Homo sapiens: one gene and its partner. The protein of the gene in region 1 interacts with the protein of each later gene in a pairwise test. Each region holds a gene or a part of one and is shown on either strand. Other genes may lie near its edges. The genes, in order: TMEM219 and IL13RA2.

Region 1 (7,897 bases):
AGCCGAGATTGCGCCATTGCACTCCAGCCTGGGCTACAAGAGTGAAACTCCACCTTAAAAAAAAAAAAAAAAAGCCGGGCGCGGTGGCTCACACCTGTAATCCCAGCACTTTGGGAGGCCGAGGCGGGCAGATCACGAGGTCATGAGATCGAGACCACCCTGGCTAACATGGTGAAACCCTGTCTCTACTAAAAAATACAAAAAATTAGCTGGGTGTGGTGGCAGGCACCTGTAGTCCCAGCTACTTGGGAGACTGAGGCAGGAGAATGGTGTGAACCCAGGAGGCGGAGCTTGCAGTGAGCAGAGATCATGCCACCGCACTCCAGCATGGGCAACAGAGCGAGACTCCGTCTCAAAAAAAAATTTTTTTTTGGCCAGTCACGATGTGTCACACCTGTAATCCTAGCACTTAGGGAGGCCAAGGCGGGTGGATCACTTGAGGTCAGGAGTTTGAGACCAGCCTGGCCAACATGGTGAAACCCCGTCTCTACTAAAAATACAAAAATTAGCCAGGGACAGTGGCATGCCTCTGTAATCCCAGCTACTCAGGAGACTGAGGCAGGAGAATCACTTGAACCCAGGAGTTGGAGGTTGCAGCGAGCCGAGATCACACCACTTCACTCCAGTCTGGGCGACAGAGCAAGACTCCATCTCAAAAAAAAAAAGTCTAGATGGGGCCGGGCAGGGTGGCTCACACCTGTAATCCCAGCACTTTGGGAGTCTGAGGCGGGTAGACGGCTTGAGCTCAGGAGTTCGAGACCAGACTGCACAACATGGTGAGACCCCGTCTCTACTAAAAATACAAAAAGAGAGAAAAAAAAATAGCTTGGCATGGTGGTGCACACTTGTGGTCCCAGCTACTTGGGCGGATGAAGTGGGAGGATTGCTTGAGCATGGTGAGGAGGGAGGTTGCACTGAGCCAAGATTGCGCCACTGCCCACCAGCCTGGGTGACAGACCAAGACCCTGTCTCAAAAAAAAAAAGAAACAAAAAAAAGGTGGGGCTCACTGGCTCACACCTGTAATCCCAGCACTTTGGGAAGCTTAAGGTGGATGGATCACTTGAGGTCAGGAGTTCGAGACCAGCCTGGATGACATGGCAAAACCCTGTCTCTACTAAAAATACAAAAAAATTAGCTGGGCCTGGTGACGCACGCCTGTAGTCCCAGCTACTAGGGAGGCTGAGGCAGGACAATTGTTTGAACTCAGGAGGCAGAGGTTGCCGTGAGCTGAGATCGCACCACTGCACTCCAGCCTGGGTAACCAGAGTGAAACTCTGCCTCCAAAAAAAAAAAAGAAGAAGAAGAAAAAAGGTTTAGGCAAACATGCACTTTTCCTGTTGCTTTTTTTTTTTTTTTTGAGATGGAGTTTCGCTCTTGTTGTCCAGGCTGGAGTGCAATGGCGTGATCTCGGCTCACTGCAACCTCCGCCTCCTGGGTTCAAGCGATTCTCCTGCCTCAGCCTCCCAAGTAGCTGAGATTACAGGCATATGCCACCACGCCCGAATAATTTTGTATTTTTAGTAGAGATGGGGTTTCTCCATGTTGGTCAGACTAGTCTTGAACTCCCAACCTCAGGTGATCCTCCCGCCTCGGCCTCCCAAAGTGCTGGGGTTACAGGCATGAGCCACTGCGCCCAGCCTGAACATGCCAGATTGTAGTTCCAGGAGGCCAGAGATCATGAATACTTTGTCCACCACTATATTCCCAGCCCACAGAATACACAGCCTGGCAGCCAACAGATGCTTATTGAATGAACGAGCCTCAACAGGGCTTTCTCATTCCCACATGCCATGCTGTGGTCAGGCTTAAATCATAACCCAACTTCTGCCACCTAATATATGTATGACCTTGGTTAAATTAAACCAGCAGTCCCCAACCTTTTTGGCACTGGGGACCAGTTTCATGGAAGACAATTTTTCCACCAGGGGAGGAATGGTTTCGGGATGATTCAAGCACATTACATTTATTTTGCACTTTATTTCTATTATTATTACATTATAAGGTATAATAAAATAATTATACAACTCATCATAAAGTAGAATCAGTGGGATCCCTGAGTTTGTTTTCCTGCAACTAGATAGTCCCATCTGATGTTGATGGGAGACAGTGAGAGATCATCAGGCATTAGATTCTCATAAGGAGCAACCTAGATCCCTCGCATGCGCAGTTCACAATAGGATTCATGCTCCTATGATAATCTAATGCCGCTACTGATCTGACAGGAAGCAGAGCTGAGGCGGTAATGCAGGCAATGGGGAGTAGCTGTAAATACAGATGAAGCTTCTCTCACCAGCCATTCACTTCCTGCTGTGCGGCTCAGTTCCTAACACGTCACGGACTGGTACTGGCCCCACGGCCCAGGGGTTGGGGACCCCTGACTTAAACTAAGGGCCAGCTTTCCAGAATAACATCCACTTTGAGGGCTTGTTGAGTGGATTAAGTCAAAATGTTGGTATACTTGGCTGGTGCGGTGGTTCACACCTGTAATCCCAGCACTTCGTGAGTCTGAGGCGGGTGGATCACCTGAGGTCAGGAATTTGAGACCAGCCTGGCCAACATGATGAAACCCCATCTCTACTAAAAATACAAAAAATTAGGCCGGGCGCGGTGGCTCACGCCTATAATCCTAGTACTTTGGGAGGCCAAGGCGGGTGGATCATTTGAGGTCAGGAGTTTGAGATCAGCCTGGCCAATATGGTGAAACCCTGTCTCTACTAATAAGTACAAAAATTAGTCAGGTGATAGTGGCGTGTGCCTGTAATCTCAGTTACTCGGGAGGCTGAGGCAGGAGAATCCCTTGAGCCTGAGAGGCAGAGGTTGAGGTGAGCTGAGATTGGGCTGTTGTTGAGTTGTAGGAGTTCTTTATATATTATAGATATTAACCCCTTATAAGATATATGATTTGATATTTCCTCTCATTCTGTTGGTTGCCTTTTCACTGTCCTTTCCTTTTTTTGTTTTTGTTTTTTGTGGGGCAGAGTTTTGATCTTTTGCCCAGGCTGGAGTGAAGTGGTGCAATCTCAGCTCACTGCAACCTCCACTCCCCAGGTTCAAGCGATTCTCCAGCCTTAGCCTCCGGAGTAGCTGGGATTATAGGCGCCCGGCACCATGCCTGGCTAATTTTGTACTTTTAGTAGAGATGGGGTTTCACCATGTTGGCCAGGCTGGTCTCAAACTCCTGACCTCAGGTGATCCACCCGCCTCGGCCTCCCAAAGTGCTAGGATTACAGGCTTGAGCCACCGTGCCCAGCCTGTTGTGTCCTTCGATGCACAGAAAAGACTCTTTTCTCTACTGAACGCCCACAGCACCCTTGTCAAAAATCATTTGACTAGTCAGGGCACAGTGGCTCACGCCTGTAATCCCAGCACTTTGGGAGGCCGAGGCGAGAGGACTGCTTGAGGTCAGGAGTTCGAGACATGCCTGGGCAACATGGCAAATGGCAAAACCCCGTCTCTACACACAATGCAAAAGTTAGCTGGGCATGGTGGGTGGCGTGTGACTACCGGCTGTCTCAACTACCCAGGAGGCTAAGGCGGGAGGATCTCTTGAGCCCAAGACGTCCAGACTGCAGCGAGCTTTGATTGTGCCACTGAACTCCAGCCTGGGCGATGACAGAGCAAGGCTCTGTCAAAAAAAAAAAAAAAAAAAAAAAAAAATCGGCCGGGTGTGGTGGTTCACGCTTGTAATCCCAGCACTTTGGGGGGCCGATGCGGGCAGACCACGAAGTCAAGAGATCAAGACCATCCCGGCCAACATGGTGAAACCTCGTCTCTACTAAAAATACAAAAATTAGCTGGGCGTGGTGGCGTGCGCCTGTAGTCCCAGCTACTCGGAAGGCTGAGGCAGAAGAATAGCTTGAATCCGGGAGGCGGAGGTTGCAGTGAGTCGAGATCGCGCCACTACACTCCAGCCTGGCGACAGACTGAGACCCCGTCTCAAAAAAAAAAAAAATCATTTGTATATGCGAAGGTTTTGTGCCACAAACTTTTGTGGCTGTTGATACAAACGACATGGCCTCTGCCTTAAGGAAGCCACAGTCGAATTAAATAGATTCCGTTTCAAGTAGCATCTGTCCTGTGTGCTTAGTGGGCACTGGGCCCATGTTTTCCCACATTTTACCCTTTAAGCTTCTGATCCAACCGGTGAGATAGATAGGATGATCCTCTTTAGTAGAGGGGTAAGCTTAGTCCCCTGAGAGCGCGGCTATGGCTTATGCGAGGGTACGGACAGTCAGGATTTGAACCCAAAGTTCCTGGCTCCATGTGTCATGCTACCTCCAGTCAGATGTTCTCACCTCCAAAACTTGGGCAGAAGTGAACTGAGATGCTCTCTACTGAGCAACTCTTCAGCTCCAGCATCCTATACATTAAGGAGTCACTAAAAGTCAGGGTCCACGAGAAAGGTGCAGATCGGGGTGCACAGAAGAGCGGAGTCCAAAACACCACTCCCAGCCCCAGTGGACAGAGTCCTCAAGTGGCAGCCCTGCAACTCTGAGCGGATGCCGAGTCCTCACCGGGAACCCGGGCGCGGCTGGTCTGTGCTATTGGCGCGGGTAGGGGACGCACAGCCCAAAAATGCCCGCGACAAGCTTCTGGGGCAGTTCTCGCCAGTCTCTCTGGAGGGAGCCTACGGGTTCTGCGACGTTTCTCGCACTTGCTCCCTGGCCTCGCTCCCGTTTCCACCCCTCCCACGGAGGTTTTCCTTTCTGGTGGCTCCTTCCTTGGGTGTCCCTTTGGTACGCCCCCACCCTGGCGGTGAGCTGCGAGGCTGGCGCCCGCGTGGCCACTGCGCATGCGGACCCGGCCGCGGGGCGGGGCCGCGCGAGGAGGAGGGTCGGGGACGGAAGCGCAGAGCACGGACCCCGCCCCCTCGCGGCCCCGCTCGTGACGTCGCGGGGGGCGCCGGCCTCCGCCCGGCCCCGAGGGGTAAGAGCGAGCGGCTGGCGGATCCGACGCGCGAGACCGGGAGGGGACGAGGGCGTTGCAATCGTTCGGGGCGGGGGCTTTCCGGGGAGGGGGTGCTCAGGTGCACCAGCGGCGGCGGACCCTCAGACTCTGCCCTCCCCTCCCTTTAACCCCCTTCCAGCCGGACGGGAGGCGGGGCAGGGCTGAGCATTTGTGACACCTACATTTCCGTGGCTCCCTTCTTTTCCCCCGACCCCTGTTTATCTCTTCGCCTTCCAGAAGTTCTTTTCCATCAGGCCGTCGCACCTTGCGTGGGAAGGAGCACCCCACTTGGAAGCAGGAGGCGGGGTTCAGATCTTGGCCCTACCCCTCCTGTGTTAAAGTCCGCGAGCCTCAGTTTCCCTCACAGTATTTTTTGCCTCGCCTTACCCGGTTTTGAGGATCTGTACGAGAAAGAGAAAGGAAGTGGACATTTGTTGAATTCCTGCATGGCCAAATACCACGCAGACTGCTTCATCCGCCACGTTTAATCCTTATTACTTGGTGTTCTCAGAACTCCCATTTCATGGATTCTTAAGCTCACAGAGTCAGTGAATAACAGAAAGGGATTCAGATCTAGCCGTTTAGCTGCACAGTGGAGTTCTTCTCCAGAGTCTTCCCTTGTCTGGGCTCTGGCTGGAACTATTCCTCAGCCAAATCCTCGCCCCAGAACAGTGCTTCCTGTTTCTCCAGCTGAGAAGTCTCCCTTTCAGTTTCCTTCTTCCAGCACGGAGTACACTGCTCTGCCTCCACTTAGATTACTTCAGAAATGAAATGCAGCAAATATTTATCCAGCAGTGCAGGGAGTTGAACTTTTGGAGTCGGGAACCTTGGATTCTTGTTCTGGCTCTGCCACTTACTGTGTGGCCTTGGGAAGTCCTTTGTCTTCTCTGAGCTTTCTTTTCTCTTTGCGTAAAAGCGGTGCTCTTGTCCCATTCTCCCTCCCTGTCTTCCAGCAGGCTCTCCCCGGAGGCTCAGCCCCCTCTGCTCCCCATGGGCAACTGCCAGGCAGGGCACAACCTGCACCTGTGTCTGGCCCACCACCCACCTCTGGTCTGTGCCACTTTGATCCTGCTGCTCCTTGGCCTCTCTGGCCTGGGCCTTGGCAGCTTCCTCCTCACCCACAGGACTGGCCTGCGCAGCCCTGACATCCCCCAGGTAAGTTCCCCACCCCCGTACCCGCTCTTCCTTCCAACCTAGACAGGCTTTTGCTGCTAATCTCATCTCACCCGTCTTCTTTTGCTCACAGGACTGGGTCTCTTTTTTGAGATCTTTTGGCCAGCTGACCCTGTGTCCCAGGAATGGGACAGTCACAGGGAAGTGGCGAGGGTCTCACGTCGTGGGCTTGCTGACCACCTTGAACTTCGGAGACGGTCCAGACAGGAACAAGACCCGGACATTCCAGGCCACAGTCCTGGGAAGTCAGATGGGATTGAAAGGTGAGATCAGAGGCTGGGTGTGGTGGCTCACGCCTGTAATCCCAACACTTTGGGAGGCTAAGGTAGGTGGATCATTTGAGGTCAGGAGTTCAAGACCAGCCTGGCCAACATGATGAAACACCATCTCTACTAAAAATACAAAAATTAGCCAGGCATGGTGGCAGGCGCCTCTAATCCCAACTACTCGGGAGGCTGAGGAAGGAGAATCGCTTGAACCCAGGAGATGGAGGTTGCAGTGAACCGAGATCGCACCATTGCACTCCAGCCTGGGTGACAGAGCAAGACTCTGTCTCAAAAAAAAAAAAAAAAAAAATCAGGTGCGGTGGCTCATGCCTGTAATCCCAGCACTTTGGGAGTCCGAGAAGGGCAGATCACGAGGTTAGGAGTTCGAGACCAGCCTGGCCAACATGGTGAAACCCCGTCTCTACTAGAAATACAAAAATTAACCTGGTGGTCTGGTTGCGGTGGCCCACAGCGGTAATCCCAGCAGTTTGGGAGGCCGAGGCGGGCAGATCATGAGGTCAGGAGTTTGAGTCCAGCCTGACCAACATGGTGAAACCCCATCTCTACTAAAAATACAAAAATTAGCCGGGCATGGTTGCACGTGCCTGTAATCCCAGCTACTCAGGAGGCTGAGGCAGGAGAATCACTTGAAGCCAGGAGGCGGAGGTTGCAGTGAGCCGAGATCGTACCACTGCACTCCATCCTGGGCAACAGAGCAAAACTCGGTCTCAAAAAAAAAAATTAGCCAGGCTTGGTGGTGCAAGCCTGTAGTTCCAGCTACTTGGGAGGCTGAGGCAGGAGAATTGCTTGAACCCGGGAGGTGGAGGTTGCAGTGAGCCAAGATCGTGCCACTGTACTCCAGCCTGGGAGACAGAGCAAGACTCCGTCTCAAACAAACAAACAAACAAAAATACAAAAAGTAGCCAGGTGTGGTGGCAGGTGCCTGTAGTCCCAGCTACTTGGGAGGCTGAGGCAGGAGAATCGCTTGAACCTGGGAGGCGGAGGTTGCAATAAGCAGAGATCACACCACTGCACTCTAGCCTGGGCAACAGAGACTCTGTCCCGCCCCGCGCCCCCCCCACCACCCTGCGCCAAAAAAAAAAAAGTAAGGTGAGATCACAGAGGACTGTGGGGTCGGGTATCAGAACACTCAGGGCTGGGCCCTGCCTCTGACCTCACCAATGATGACCTTGGGCACATCCCTGGACTTTAGTCACTTCTGTGATTAGGGCTTTCAGTGAACATGCTGCCGACAGGGTAGGTTTTCTATGAATGCTTTCTTCCTCTGCCAGTTCTGATGTTCTTTGAGTCTATCCTTGGAGGTAGGATGAAATGGGCTAGGTTTGACCTAATGTTTTCTCATCCTTTAGCCACCTCCTCCTAGAGGCCCCTTTTTCCTTAGCATAGTTCTGTATGCCACAAAAGATGCAGAAAAAAATTAGACACCATCAATTTCCAAAGAGCTATAGTCTTCTGGGAAAATGACAAGCGATAGGGAGAATGTGAAAAT
Region 2 (4,424 bases), on another chromosome or scaffold:
TCAGCCTTCTGTGTAGCTGGGATTACAGGTACGCGCCACCATGCCTGGCTAATTTTTTGTATTTTTAGTAGAAATGGGGTTTCACCATGTTAGCCAGGCTGGTCTCGATCTCCTGACCTCAGGTGATCCACCTGCCTTGGCCTCCCAAAGTGCTGGGATTACAGGCATGAGCCACTGCGCCCAGCCTAAAGCCAAACAGTTTTATTCATACTGTATACTTTCATCCCAAGTGCAGTTTAAAACAAACAACAACAAAAACTAGAATCTCATTTTCCAAGATCTGACAATATCTCTGTGGCTTAGTGCAATCTGTGAAGTCACATTGTTTTATTAATACATCATAAATATAAAACCTGACTCATACCTTGATTGGAGAACTACGTGCAGCACTCTCACTATGAATTTATGAGAAAAGAAACTGTTAATAGAATCCAGAAAATGTACTACTAGCTGAGGCTTTGAGTACTCAAAAGCCTATTTAAATACAACAATATTTAAAAATAAGACGTATTCAACATTCGCAAGAAAAATTCAGTTTATTGAGACTCATATTGAACATTTGGCCATGACTGGAAACTGTTGAGTCAATACCATGTCTCTTGATATGGAAAGTCTTCATGTATCACAGAAAAATTCTGGAATCTAGAAAGAACTCTGTTATTAACAAGTCATCTCTAATAACACAAACTATTTCACTGAAGATTAACAACTCAGAGAATAAGCACAAGAGCATTCAGCAAACAAAGTGAAGCATTCTATACACATTCACTTTTCTCTCTATCTTGAAAAGATATGGCATTGAGATATCTTTTCTCAGCTGGGCACAGTTGCTGGCACCTGTAATCCCAGCACTTTGGGAGGCCAAAGTGGGAGGAATTGCTTGAGCCCAGGAGTTTGAGACCAGCCTGGGCAACATAGCGGGACTCCATCTCTATAAAAAATCTAAACATTAGCCATTGTGTCTGGCTAATGTTTAAATTTTTTATAGAGATGGAGTCCCGCTATGTTGGTGCCTGCCTGTAGTCCCAGCTACCCAGGAGGCTGAGGCAGGAGGATTGCTTGAGCCCTAGATACCAAGGCTGCAGTGAACCATGATTGCACCACTCCTCTCCAGCCTGAGTGACAGAATGAGACCCTGTCCCAAAAAGATATTTTTCTCCAGGTTACAACTCCTCCTTAAAGCCCCCCAACCCAGAGTGGTCCTATTGTTTTCTGAAATTCTATAGCATTATCTGCACGACTCAAATGGCAATCATCTAAAATCATCTCAAAGGTTATATTTTTTTGTATGGATCCTGTCTCCCTTAACTTGAGTGTGTGCTCCAAAGGCAGGCACCATGCTTTATCATTTGCATGTGTTCTTGTGCCTGTGGCACACTGGTAATATGTGTTTCAGTCTATGATCATTTTAATTCACTCTTCTATTTCTCCCAATCCTGCTTTTCTCTTGTAACTCTTTCCGTATACCATTCTCTAATCTAGGGCCAAATAGTATTTCATGTTTAAAGTTTGATTTCGACAAAAGTAAATCCACCTCAAAATGAAGTCTTGTAAGCTTAATTTTTAAAAATTGCTGTATTTTCTGAAGATAACATCATAATCCATACGGAATCAATTGTACACCCACAGCGAACAAGCAAAATTATAAAATGTATCTCCATCAGTTCTAAGTGCAGAACATTTTAAAAATCTCCTATTCTCAGGCTAAACATCATAATGTTACACATCTTACCATTTTTGGGTAGGTGTTTGGCTTACGCAAAAGCAGACCGGTTACAAATATAACTAATATTAAGATGAAACCAAATGGTAGCCAGAAACGTAGCAAAGTTTTCTTCGATAGGTCTTCACCTAGGATTAAAAATCACACGGAAAGGGGAAGTGTTAGACATTTGCCACTATTTTTGAAACTGAATTATTTTATAAATACTTCAGAACTGAGTTGAGCTTGGAAACCCCTGTCATATTTGCCAGTGCATAAATACCACAATTGTGTTTGAGTATAGCGTTCCTTTCATTTGTGCAATTTTTATATAGAAAAGTACTTTACTGAACTGTGACATGTCTTATTTTCACTTAGAAAAATAACTTCCCCAAACACAATTCTTATTTCCTGATATGAGTTTGTTTATATTTGACCTTGTGAATTCTCCATTTAAAAATGACAAAATATTAGCCAAGTGATTAAACAAACATGTCCTGTGTGTCTGTCTCTTAACTCTCAGTAAGTCAAACGTGTACTTAGATCATAGGATACTGTACCAAGCAAGAGGTATCCTTCAATAAAAATTCCTGTGTGAGTAATGGAAATCATCTTTTAAGGTTACCTTTTTAAAGTTGTCTCATATTTTAAAGACCAAAGGGAGGGATAAGGTTTTTCTTTTCTTTTTGATTTTGCTTTGTTAGTTTAGGGATGGAGTTTTAATGGTTCTTCTGCATAGCAAGAAATGAGCAATCACTAGGCAAACTTAAAAAGCAGACGAAGTTTGGTCTCCCTAAACTAGTACCTCTCACTTGTTTTGGAGTAATATAAAAGATCTTGAATCTTAGCCACGCATCTACAAAGCTCTCTTGATCCCACCTTTTTCTTTGTCCTATTTCCTCACGATCTTGTTTTCTATTAGAAAATTATCAGTCAAATTCACGTGTTCAGAGAAGATTTACAAGAATATAATCCAGAGAAATTACTGATGTAAGTTATCTGTCATGCAAAATTAACAGTGGGAAGGCAGGAAGCTCCTTTGCTGAAGTTCTACTGGCTTTCCCCATACAGAGTCAATCCTGAAGAGGACATACTTTTATTTCCAAAAATATTATTGTCCTATTTTTCTATAACTTGAAACATCCAATAAGAAATGTCCTAAAGAACTGAGACCACATGCAACTCAAGAAATTCCTTGTTTCTAATTTCAAAGTCATTAAGATTCTATGAAGAGGGCTGGGCACAGTGGCTCATGCCTGTAATCTCAACACTTTGTGAGACCGAGGTGGACGGATCACTTGAGGCCAGGAGTTCAAGACCAGCCTAGCCGACACGGTGAAACTCTGTCTCTACTAAAAATACAGAAATTAGCCAGGCGTGGTGGTGCATGCCCGTAATCCCAGCTACTCAGGAGGCTGAGGCACGAGAATCGCTTGAACCCAAGAGGCAGAGGTGACAGAGAGCCAACATCATGCCACTGCACTCCAGCCTGGGTGATAGAGCAAGACTCTGTACCAAAAAAAGGAAAAGATTTCCCTCAAAGCAAGAGAAATCTTAGGCATCACTATCATTGATAAGATTGCATGTAAAATACAGAAAAGAATATATTTTTTGAGGATATGGCTAAAAACTCACCATAACCACTTTATACAATGCATTGACTAATGACGAGATATAGTTCAGGACATAACTTTAGAGTTTCCTGATTTTTTAAAACAGTAACAAAAATGAAAAACATAAAACTAGTAAGTCTTCTTTCTGATTCCATATAGCTCTTGGTTGAGTTTTCCACTGTCTTGCTATTTTTTCTCCATAATCCTTAGTGATTATATAATCTATTAGGCTTCTCGTTTATTGCCTATCTCTACCCAATTGGAAATAAAATGTAAGTTCACTGAGGGTAGAGATTTCTTTACTGCCATATCTGTAATGCTTGAAAAGAGTCTGATACATAGTAGGTGCTTAATAAATATTTGATGAATGAAAGGGATCAATGATACCACTGTATTCGTAGGGAGATAATAGAGATTCCACTATAGTAGAACAACATGAAAGGAGATGAATGATTGATAGATATGGCAGTATCTGTCTGTATCAGCATCAGTATATTTATTTAGAGCTGCATCTATATCTATGTACCTGAAAGAGCAATGCTGAGTTGATTTCCTTCAATTTTGAACATTTATTAGTAATTTCTACTCTTAAAGCTAATACATTGTGAAGCACAATCACATTTTACCTCATTCTTTAGGCTTTTTAGTTTATATTGCTATGTAATTTAAATGACTTTATCACAAATCACTTTAAATCAGTGTTAGAAGTGAATGGAATGAATATGTATTTTACTATTCATGACCTTTTAATTAGAAAAATATTCCTTTTGAATAGTATTAGACACCCAGAAACAAATGTATGCTGATCTATACTTGCTTTAAGATTTCTGTTCTCTTGAATACTGAAAGCATATGAAAATATTGATTAAAATAAGTTCCTGCCAATCTCTCAAAAGAATGAGCATATTATCTATATTGACAGAAAAACAAGAATTTTGATAATAGAAGTATAACAATATTCCTAGTCCTAACTGAATGAATATTAGACTTTTAATAAATCTTTATTCAATTGAAGTGCTCCCTAACTTATTCTCTCTGTTCATAGACTATATGGGAAAGTCCTTCACTTCTGTAATTACAAAATACACCAAAAGAAAATTAATTTTGCT

Evidence for each region.
Region 2: the proteins of TMEM219 (region 1) and IL13RA2 interact in binary tests that used the Homo sapiens proteins (3 or more experiments, as listed by UniProt).

Annotation. Positions count from the first base shown.
Region 1 is NC_000016.10:29,957,206-29,965,102, forward strand, and holds the start of TMEM219 (insulin-like growth factor-binding protein 3 receptor isoform 1 precursor), read left to right. Parts: upstream 1-4,873; 5' UTR 4,874-4,927; exon of another isoform or gene 4,928-5,901; 5' UTR 5,902-5,938; coding exon 5,939-6,103; intron 6,104-6,194; coding exon 6,195-6,384; intron 6,385-7,897. UniProt on the Homo sapiens protein: Cell death receptor specific for IGFBP3, may mediate caspase-8-dependent apoptosis upon ligand binding.
Region 2 is NC_000023.11:115,003,465-115,007,888, forward strand, and holds the end of IL13RA2 (interleukin-13 receptor subunit alpha-2 precursor), read right to left. Parts: intron 1,852-4,424; coding exon 1,733-1,851; intron 643-1,732; coding exon 616-642; 3' UTR 518-615; downstream 1-517. UniProt on the Homo sapiens protein: Cell surface receptor that plays a role in the regulation of IL-13-mediated responses. Functions as a decoy receptor that inhibits IL-13- and IL-4-mediated signal transduction via the JAK-STAT pathway and thereby modulates immune responses and inflammation.